2 separate regions of the Homo sapiens genome follow, and region 2 is linked to region 1. Evidence: fine-mapped expression QTL. A gene starts in region 1. The other region holds a variant in brackets. All regions are shown on one strand. Distances are between the middles of the regions.

Region 1 (5,376 bases):
TACCTCAGATGGAGATGTTTTCTTACTGGGTGCCTCTAAGAGGAGGATTCTCCAGTTTTCCTTCTTTTCTTTTCTTTTTTTTTTTTTTTTTTTTGGACAGTCTTCTCTGTCGCCCAGGCTGCAGTGCAGTGGTGTGATCTCTGCTCACTGCAACCTCCGCCTCCCAGGTTGAAGTGATTCTCCTACCTCAGCCTCCTGAGTAGCTGGGACTACAGGCGTGTGCCACCACACCTGACTAATTTTTGTATTTTTGGTAGAGATGGGGTTTTACTATGTTGGCCAGGCTGGTCTTGAACTCCTGGCCTGAAGTGATCTGCCTACCTCAGCCTCTGAAAGTGCTGGGATTACAAGCATGAGCCACCATGCCTGGCCTACGGTTCTCCAATTTTCTAGATGCTGTGATCGTTTGTTTGTTGATCAGAGGCACGTGTACCGATTGTAGCAATCAAATAATGCTCAGCATGGGATATGGCTGTGTCTGAGGGACCAAGGGACCCTGTATCATACTCTGTGATCAGTGGATAGAACATTTGCCAAAAGAAGAGCTCAGAGCTTTGAATCGACGTAGGTCTCAAGCAAAGGAAGGAGAATGTGAGCCATACCAAATAGCTCTTCTGTTACATTAACGAGGTTTGCTTTGACTTAGGAAGGCCAGACAAGACAGAGGCAGAGAGGGAAGGGGGAGGAAGGGAGAAGAGGGAGGAAGGAGGGAAGAAGGAAGGAAAAGTCCACATTGTATCCTTTGACTGGGCAGTGGCTGAGGGAACCTCTAGGCCAAGACTCACATAGACCCATTGATCTGGGTACCAATGTCTGTGTTTTAAAATATAGCCAGTTTTGTAGTTTTATTCACATCTGCGTCTTCCCTTTCACGGTGATGGCTTGGAGGCGTAACCCCTGTGTGAACCCTCGCTGCCCTGCTCAGTTTCAGGCGGGATCAGTTGGAGGACAGTGTGACCTGGAGGAAAGAATGCCAGGCTTCTGACTCTGCCAGGAGCCAGCAGTGGAATGTCAGCAAGTCCCTTGCCGTGTTTCTGCTTCTGTTTTCTAATCTGTAAGTCGAAATAAGAATGTCTAACTCCACACAGGGTTGGCAGTGGGATGAGGCCGTATATGTGAGAGCACTTTGGGAAGAAATAAATAACGACATTTGTCGTACATAAGATGTCACTCCTAAGAGTGGACTTCACAAGAAAGGAAGTGTGTTTGATCTCAGCTTTGGTTTACTAATCTAAGAAAATAAAAACTGGATTCCAACAAGGGATTGTAAATTCTCACTGCATACCTGACACCAGTTACCATGATGACTCTTGTCTGGTTACTTGATCCCTGAGTCCTTCAGCTCCTACTTCTGTTGAGTGGGGAATAACAGCTCTTCACTGAGACTTTTATAAAGCACTCTGTGTGATTAATTTAAACATCATAATAATTCAAATTTCTATGCATGGGGAAACTTAGCATTTTACGTGAAGTAAACCTTGGTGCAATAGTGTCACCTCTTTCCAGGTGCATTATTCACAATGTCATGGTTAGCTGACACTCAGACATTTAGGAGATATAGTTAGACTGTAATAGCTTAAGGTTTCTCACAGCCTTCTCATTTTTCACACCTGCTGGGGAACCCACTCTCCTCTAGCCTCAGGGATTTGGTCCATATCCTTCCTGTTCTTCTTGTTCTCAGTCTGAAGCACTGTCCTCTCCTACCCGTCTTCTAAACCATAGTGTATTCACAGGCCACATTCCAGCAAGCTCACAAGTGCCAGCCTGACGTGAGTAGTGCTAATATCAAATCTGACAACTTCCGTTCGGAGTCAGGCAGGCAGAATGGTATAGGGGGCAGAGCTTTGGCATCATACGAACCTGGGTTTTGAAACTCCACCATTCACCACCCTGTGTGACTCTGGGCCAGTCATTCAACCTCTTTGAATCTTGATTTCTTCCTGGTTAAAGGGATGAGAGTCCAGCCAGGCACGGTGGCTCATGCCTGTAATCCCAGCACTTTGGGAAGCTGAGGCGGGCGGATCACCTGAGGTCAGGAGTTCGAGACCAGCATGGCCAACATGGTGAAACCCCATCTCTACTAAAAATGCAAAAATTAGCCAGGCGTGGTGGCGCATGCCTGTAATCCCAGCTACTCAGAAAGTTGAGATGGGAGAATTGCTTAAACCCGGGAGGTGTAGGCTGCAGTGAGCTGAGATCACACCATTGCACTCCAAGCTGGGCAACAAGAGTGAAACTCCATCTCAAAAAAAAAAAAAGAAGAAGAGAAAGAGAAAAATAGAGATGAGGGTCCTAGAGTAAGTATACCCCAAAGGGAGAAAGGGAGGAATACATTTAATCAGCTAGGCATATGAAGAACTTAGCACGGCGGCACATAATGAGTACTATGTCAATGATCTTTGTCCTCTGTGGAAACATCCTTACTGGATGAAGTGGGGCTGCTTCTCCCAAAGTTCCAACCCTGGTTTGGGCAACTCCATCAACTTCCATGAACCCTCAGGGAAGAACGAGTAGAGATTTCCAGATATCCCTTTCCCCCACACATTGGCCTCTCATAGAATGTAACTTTGGTCATAACAAACCCAGTCTTATTACTGAAATAAGTTGAAGCCTTCTAAACAAGTAGGCTTAGAACCTCTTTTCCACAGGAAATGCCTGATCACTGGAATTTTGTAGCTAGAAGGTATTCCTGAGCTCAGAGATGCCACATACTATTAAAATTATTGGTAATTTCCTCTTGCTTGGGCACTCAAGCTCTCTACCATTGCAGGAATTCATGAGCTGACTCCTTTATTTCAGGTGCTTCCAAACAAAACTGACAAGCAACACCCAGTTGCCTACATTTTAGTTTGCATTCATCTCCACTGGGTGTAGGGTACTAGGAGCATGCAGCACAATTGTGCTTCTCTTCCAGCTGGAGTCTGTAGACTGAGCCAGGCCACCTTGTTTAGGCTCTAGTGCCTGACAAAGAGCTCAGTGGGCTGGAAGCCTAGTGCAGTTAACACTGATGGCTTTGTAGCTTGGACAGGTGAAAGTCAGCAAGCTTCCCAGTAGACCAATTGATCTGAGTTGCCTCTCTGGCCAGAAGCCAGCCCTGGCAGGGATCCAACTTCCTCTCAAGCACTGAGAAAGGGCTCAGGTGTATCTGGTGGCCGGCAGAGCAGGTAGTCAGCCAAGGCTTCATAGTTCTCACCCACGGCAATTCAGCTAGCAAACTAGAGACACTTCCCCAAGAAGACACAGCGTGGCAAGACTGCTGAGACGCATAAAGAAATCTTAGCTGGTGAGTTACTTCTTTATGCCTGCCCCACTTGAAATAAGAGTTTGGGGCTCCTTTTACTGTGATTAAAACTGGATTATTTATGCTAGCATCTCTGTTTTTTGACACAGCTATGCAAAACTTTTTGATCTTACATGTCTCTGTTTTCTTTACTGTCCAGGATTTTGTGGAAAGTAGAAATGATAGCAAGATATAGTTGGAGTTCTTAAAGAATGTTCAAAGAATCAGAAAGTTCAAACCCCAGAAACTTGGCTTCTCTTTAGAAATTCTGTTTCCCCTGAGGACAGTGGAGAAGGAAAAATACCTCCATAACTCCATTTTTATGATAGGGATTATGCCACTTAATCCCAGTGAATATTTGTAAAATTATTTTGAGACGTTTAGGAACGACATCATAGTCCATAATTACAAAGTGTATTGGTGCTTGTAACTGTAGAGATGTTTGTTTTTAGTGGGGGAATCAGACCTGTCTGTGATAAGAAGGCTCCCTGGGTTCATATCACCCCTGAGATATTCCAGTTCGTAGGAAAGAAGTCAATTCAGAGGCAGTGAATGAGAGAAGTCCCATCATAATAGGTCTTATATAACTAGCCGTCAGCAGAAGGGAACTGCTAAAAACTGGGGGAAAGGGCACAGAAAAGTTATGGAAGGAGCAGTGCTAACTTGCTGCAATTGTCCCAACAAGAAGGAAGGTGCAGGGAAATGAAAGATAACTCTGTGGCCTCTTCCAGGGCGATGAGCAGCATAGTGCTTTTGTGAAGATTCCACCCAGAGTCTGATGCTGGGCAAAGCATGTCTGGCCAAGACTGGAAACAGAACTTTTTTTTTTTTTTTTTTGAGTCTGAGTCTGGCTCTGTCACCCAGGCTGGAGTGTAGTGGCACGATCTCAGCTCACTGCAACCTCTGCCTCCCAGGTTCAACTGATTCTCATGCCTCAGCCTCCCAAGTAGCTAGGATTACAGGTGCTTGCCATCACGCCCAGCTAATTTTTGTATTTTTAGTAGAGATGGGGATTTTGCCATGTTGGCCTGGCTGGCCTCAAATTCTAGCCTCGAACTCCTGGCCCCCAGCGATCCACCTGCCTCGGCCTCCCAAAGTGTTGGGATTACAGGCATGAGCCACTGCACTCAGCCTGGAAACATAACTTTAAACATTGAACTGAAACAGGGAAACATCTCAGCCAAGTGATTTTTATAAAGAGTTATTAACAGGGAACTTTTAAAAGAAAAAAAAAAGTGATAATCCAACCTACCAGATAATGACTCTTCATTCTTACATGTTCCCTTCTTCTTGTCCATGTCAGCAAAGAAATATACCTGGTTACTATGGAGAAAAGATACCCTATTGTATATACTACTTTTTTAAAAACTAACATTGGATTATAAACACTTTCCAACATTTCTACATAGTCTTAATTATTTTAACATTGATAAAATCTTAAGACAAGTTCCAAGAAGTCATGAAGCCCGGAAAGATTAGTGATCTAAAACAGGGAGTCAAATTTCTTAAGTGACTTCCTCTAGAAGTTCAGGGAACTCCTAGAAGAGCAGCAAAGCTCCAACTTGAAGGATCCAGATACATATGACAATAGGTAGACTGTTGGTAAGTCAGTGGCTTGATGGCTTAACGGGGACAATAACAGGAGGCGAGTATACCCACAGGGCCAGACATGCTGGGGAAGGGAGCCCACTAGAATGGGTCCAAGCCCATAGCCAAGAGCAGAAGCTGCCATAGCGGCGGTCAAGGAGGCTTCATTCTAGATCCACATGCTGAACAGTGCTTCATCAGCAGACTCTCTGAAGAAGCTTCTGCACCTTGGAGCTCCCAAAAGAGATCAAAAGCCATGATCAAGACCAAGGGAAAGGTGGGGGAGTTGTGGGAGCTGGACACAAAGGACATTTAACTCCTTGTCCCACTTCCAGCAGCTGCCAACCATCCTCCTCCCACTCACTCCTGGCTCTCTTTTGCTCTCTTCTCTTTTTTTTTTTTTTAAGACAGGATCTCACTCTGTTACCCAGGGTAGAGTGCAGTGGCATGATCATACCTCACCGCAGCCTTGATCTCCTGAGCTCAAGAGATCTCCTACCTCAGCCTCT
Region 2 (5,376 bases), 42 kb before region 1:
ATTTACCACGGACTCCCCTGGCTGATCAGTCAGCAGCATTTATCTGCTTGTATTTCCCTGTAAATATTCAGAGCCACACCCCCAGTTCAGGGCTATTGGAGTGCCAAAATGGAGCATCTCAACCCCCTCCTTGCCCCACCCCATCCTGCAATTGCATAGGACAAATGCTCTGCCCGTCTTCTAATTTTCTTTTGGCATTTCGGAGTAGCTTCTCAAGGCAACATGACACGATGCTGTGCTGGCTGACATCTTGTCCCTAGTGAGTCTGCTTGCCGTGATGCCCTGCACATTAGACTGCCAGGTACCCCTAGACTTGTGGCCAGGTAGAAGGGTGGCCCTAGACCCATGTCCCCATGTTCTAAACACAACCCATGCCCAGAGAGGGAAAGATAGCATCAAAATGATGCAAACAGCATGACATATGAAGAAAGGCTGAGAAGTTTGGGGGAGCAGTGAGCCCAGTGTGAGTCAGCAGGAGATTTTTATCTGCACAGATAGGAAGGCAATGTCTAAAAGAAGGGCATGTATGTCCCACTGGGCCACCCTGGGAATACTGCCTCCCCAGCAGCATCACTCAGTAAAAGACACAGGGACAAACTTAGCATGTTCAGGAGAAGAAAGGGACCAGGACAGTGCAGATGAGCTACAGGCTAGTGGAGTGGCTGCGCCCCTTGTGCCAGGGCCAGAGGTGGGGCAGAGAGCCTGAAGGCAGCCTGTCCCATGCTCTGGTGTTATCTGCACAGCAGCCAGGTCGAGAAGGTGCCACACCACCCACTGCAGAGCAGCCTCTGCCAGACTGGCAGCCCTACTTACCTCGGCGGCGAAGTGCTGTCCGCTGACGGTGTGCTCAGAGCCGTGCGGGTCATTCGGGTTCCCCCAGTGCAGGTGCAGCTGCGTGGCACTGTAGCGAGACTGGAGGCCCTGGATGTGCATGTCCGAGGGCAGGTTCAGCTTCACTGCGGGGAGTGGAGGAGCAGCCTTCAGAGCCCCGGCCAGCTGTGCACTGCCAGAGAGCAGTCAGGTAGGCAATGCTCCCTCCACCCCTGCTGCCACCCCCTGGAGCCCAGAGAGAGGCAGGTGGATGGAGTGAGGTGCGGAGCAGAGATGCAGCCTAAAGGTCAGACACCTGGGCTCTTTCCCTGAGAATGTTCCCTTTTCCCCAAAGCAACTCCAGTGGCACCAGCACCTTCTTGGTTCACCTTGGAAAGTGATGCCAGAAACGCTAACACTAGACCAACGGATGGGTGTTTATTTACATATTGATGGATCAGACACCTTTAGTGAAGTACCTTCCAAGCTTTAGAATTATATAGCAACAGCAACGATAACTGCTATTTATGAAGCATTTACTTCACTCTGTATGCCAGACCCCAACGTACATAATCTCCAGTCTTCACGGTATCCATCAATATGTCCATTTCCAGATGGAAGCTCAAGGAGACTAAAATTCTCACCTAGATTCTCATGGCTCGTAAGCAGTCAAGCCAGAGTTCAAATCCAGGTTGGTCTGACTCCAAAGCCTGGGCACCCCCCGCCAAACTGTGTGGTTCCTTGAATCGTTTATGGTCCAGAATTCACTCCAGCTGCACAGCCAATGAACTACAGTGCTCAGGCCGGTCTCCTGCCCCATCCTGAGAGATGTGCTTCTTCTGGGAAGTGCGGCCCTGGCAGGATCCTCAGAGCCCAGAGCCTCCAGCATCCCCTGGAGAGAGTGCTCCTGGAATCTCTCAAAGACACCCCCGCCCCGCCCCACCCCTCCTCCTGGATGCTTCCACGGAACACCTCCCTGCCAGATGGAAAAGGACAGGCCTGGCAGCTGAGGGAGACTCAGACATACCCCTCAGGTCTCCAAGGCCTCTCCCTCACCTGAATGGCCATTGTTGGTCAGGAGAAACTGCTTGTTGGCAGACAGATTGTAGCCTTGGAACTCGAGGGGCGTGAGGCTGGCGTCATACTGGAGGATGTCACTGTGCAGGTCTATGGGGGACTGCAGCAGGCCCCCACACGACGGGTACTTCTTGGACCAGCTATTCTCCCCATCAGGACCTGGACACAGAGATCCATGCTCAAGATTTAGAGTTTCTCACAAAGGGATTTTCCTTATCTTCTAATTCTCTGTTCAATACAATTACTCCTTTTCTCCTCTTTTCTGAATCCCCGGAGGTAAATCTTCAAGGCTCAGAGTCTTGGCCTCCAGAATCAGGTCCAGCAACCACTCAGGACCACCTGCTCTTAAGTGATGTGGGGAAAGAAGGACTAGGGCTGCACAGGCCAGAGCCAGAAGGCCACCGAACTCTGCTTTATTTTGTACATTGTTCCTGTTTGACACACACGTCAAGACCTGTTGACTTTCAGCAATTCAGCATCTGCTTAGCCAGTACCTATTATGAGCCAGGAATTACTCTGGGTCTTGGGGCTGCCAGGTTGAATACAATAGAGCCCCTGCTCATCCAAGCTGGCATTCTAGCGGGGAAGAATTTAGCAAATCTGCGGGGCCACCCCAGGTGGGAAAAATTAGTGTCTTACTGACCACAGTGCCAAGTATTATCTTGG[T/C]GCAAAAATAATTGCGGTTTTTGCCATTCCTTTCAGGCAAAAACCACAACTGCTTTTGCACCAACCTAAATAGGTCTTTGTGGCTGCTGGCTTTGCAAGTATGACCTTCCTGAAGAGAAACCCCTGAGGACATTGACTCTTGATACCCACATTTAGAGTAACTATAGAACCCAATCTGATAGGGATGATTGACAAATGTTAAATAATTATAGGCCTGGAATCACAGAGTGAAGTGCAGAGTTTAAGCTGGAAAAAAATATGACCACACTATAAACTAATTATTACAATATAATTGACACACTATCAGTGAAGAGGAACAGACTTTAAAAAAAGAAATTCCTCCAGGGCTCAAGCTTCTTGCTAACTACCAGATAGCAGTTCCTCCCCTGGAAATGAAAATAAACATGCTATGTGCAGATGAACTTTCCTACTCCCACAGGGAAAAAGTCTTTAAAGAATGTAAATCTATGTTTAAAAGATTATCTCCACGGTAATTAAACAGACTTTCAGGCCAAGGTTTCTCCAGAAAAGCAAAGAATTGGCATGTCATGGCTCGTTAGGGTAGACCCAGGGTGTCCTGTGGGCTCTATCAGAGCTGGGGATCAAGCTTTGCCATCTGGGGGTCCGTTCATCAGTATTTCAACACAAGGAAGGTGGGTAAATAGAGAAAAGGGGAAAGGAACACCACCTCTTCTGGGAATTCTTCTGTAGACCCCTGCACTGTTTCACAAGGGTGTAAATGTTATATTGGCCCCACAGAATCCCAACCCCCTACATCGTGCTCTCTAACTAGGGGACCGTATCTGAGAGTGGGAAGAATCCGAAGTGATACTTGGTACCCAGGTTCATTTCAAATGCTATGAGGCGTTGGTCCCAGGCTTAGTTAGTTCTTACTTCTAGGTCCGGACACACACATCGGAACCCTACTGATTTTTCAGGCTGTCAACCTTAGGCTATGCATTTTCAGAAATGTTACAGCATGACGGAATTGCAGAATCTCCAGTCCAACCTTTCACTGGACACCAGTCTTCTCACTTGGGCATGGCAGAGTCTCCGCTGAGCTCTACTATTCTTATTTTCAAGGCCTCAAAATAACTCAACTACACCAAGATGGTGACTAGGGAAGAGGGAGGCTGGAGGATATCAAAGCAGGCACTCCAGGGCCAAACTGGAGTAAGACAATTATTCAGCTGGGGGCCAAACCGAATGCTTTAGGGGCAGCGGGGAGCAGAATGAAGCAACCGTGAGGCCTCATGTAGAACCCCAGGGTCAGGAAGAGACACAGCACAGGGTAAGACTCCCTAAGTGAGGCTGCCAGCCTTTTCTGTGCTCACAATACTGCCTGGGCCCACAGCCAGCAGGGCGGAAGCTGCCAGCCAGGCATGAATGCAAAAAACTCAGGAAGTAAAGAGATGCATCATTGAGAAGCTTTCTCTTTGCACACATGACTAAAGGGAACTGGATTAGAAGGGTTTTCTTTTCCCACAGTGGAGGTTCAAAAAGGTTTCATCAAGAGGGCATTTTACTGATAGCTAAACGAGAGCCTCGTGAAGATAGGGACCCCTCATCTTCGTCTCTGTGAACCCATATTATAAGTAGGGTCACGTGCCCCCATGGGCATTTAGGAAACATTTTCCCAAAGAGTGAAAAAGAACAGAGGGCTTGGGAAAATGTGACTTGGGGAATGTTTCCTTTTTCTCTTGCTCTAAATACGCTTTATTGGAAGTTAGGACCAAATAAGGTATTTGGGGGGCAGGAAAGACTAAGGATATTAAAGGCAGTAGAGTTGGTGTTGGCAAAACCTGTCTTGGAAAGAGAAGCAGCTATGTTGGACCAGGGGAGTCCAGAGAATGAGATTCCAGCATCAGCTGTCCCAACACTTCAGTGGGTTATGTTCCCTGCTGGAGCCTCCATTGCCCTTCGTGCAAATGGTGGGGGTGGTGGGCGTAGTGGTGGGGATGGGATGTGTGTGGAAGCTATGTTCTGGAAGGTTCCTTCTGGCTCTTAAGCTCTGATATTTATTAAGAATACTAGGACTAAGCACCTTCTCCATCTGTCAGGCAAATTTGAATGAGTCAGAAAGGTTGCTCATGTCAAGGCAGCTACTGGGCATGTGACAAGGTGCCCAGGGGAACCAGCTTCGGGAATGAGGGCACAGGGCACCGGTGCTCCAGGACTGGCTGGGATCAGACAGCCATCTGCATCAGGAACCTGCCCTGGTCCTGGCTGCCATCCACAGCGGAGTTCGTCCTTGGGCACCAGTCACAGGTCTGTAGGTCAGCAAGGTCAAGAAAGCCTTGTCTTCGCCTCCTCCTCCTCCTCCTCATTGTTATTATATTGTAGTAGCTTTGATCCTTATAACTCTATAACCTTACGGGGTAAGCAAGGCAGAATTGCACCATTTTATGGGTGAAAAATAGAGATTTAAGAGATTTGCCGGAAGTTTGACTTTGGCTAAGTAACAGTTACTTTGCTTGGGTCACAGGACTTATGTGTCCTTCAGTATTTATCCAGGAGATTTTGTGCACCTGGAATTTCCTGGCTTCCCCACGCTGTCCTTGAAGACAAGGACCACGGCTCATCCATCGCTGCACTTCCCACAGTGCCTGGCACAGAGTGGGCCCTCACATGTTTACTAAGCTGAACTCTCAACACCTGTTTCATGCTTGTTCCTTTCCCAGGGAACGTGCACCCACCTTAATTCCCTCATGTATTTCTTCTCCTCAAAAAAGAGGAGGAAAAATGAGATCACTTGCTCAGGTTCAAAATGTACCCTCCTAGCTTTCTAGCTTACCTGTGTGCAAATGGTTTCTGTTTGGGGGC

Alleles and levels. Alleles are on the strand shown, and positions count from the first base shown. SD is a standard deviation of normalised expression in the study named.
As copies of C replace T in region 2, the expression in minor salivary gland of the gene that starts at base 3,252 in region 1 goes down (small effect, 0.40 SD a copy in GTEx).

What was found. PIP is the estimated chance that this variant, and not a neighbour inherited with it, causes the effect.
Region 2: its variant is fine-mapped to the expression of LINC02568 in minor salivary gland (GTEx, PIP 0.91).

Annotation. Positions count from the first base shown.
Region 1 is chr15:63,386,979-63,392,354 of GRCh38, forward strand. It overlaps LINC02568 (long intergenic non-protein coding RNA 2568), which reads left to right and starts at 3,252. Exons shown (of 7, transcript NR_120375.1): 1 at 3,252-3,283.
Region 2 is chr15:63,344,664-63,350,039 of GRCh38, forward strand. It overlaps CA12 (carbonic anhydrase 12), which reads right to left. Exons shown (of 11, transcript NM_001218.5): 3 at 1,867-2,046; 4 at 814-956. Among named protein-coding and RNA genes, the nearest start is that of CA12, 34 kb to the right of the region's middle. RefSeq lists a silencer at 747-934, an enhancer at 1,690-1,859 and a cis regulatory region at 1,775. The variant T/C (reference allele first, on the strand shown) is at 2,554.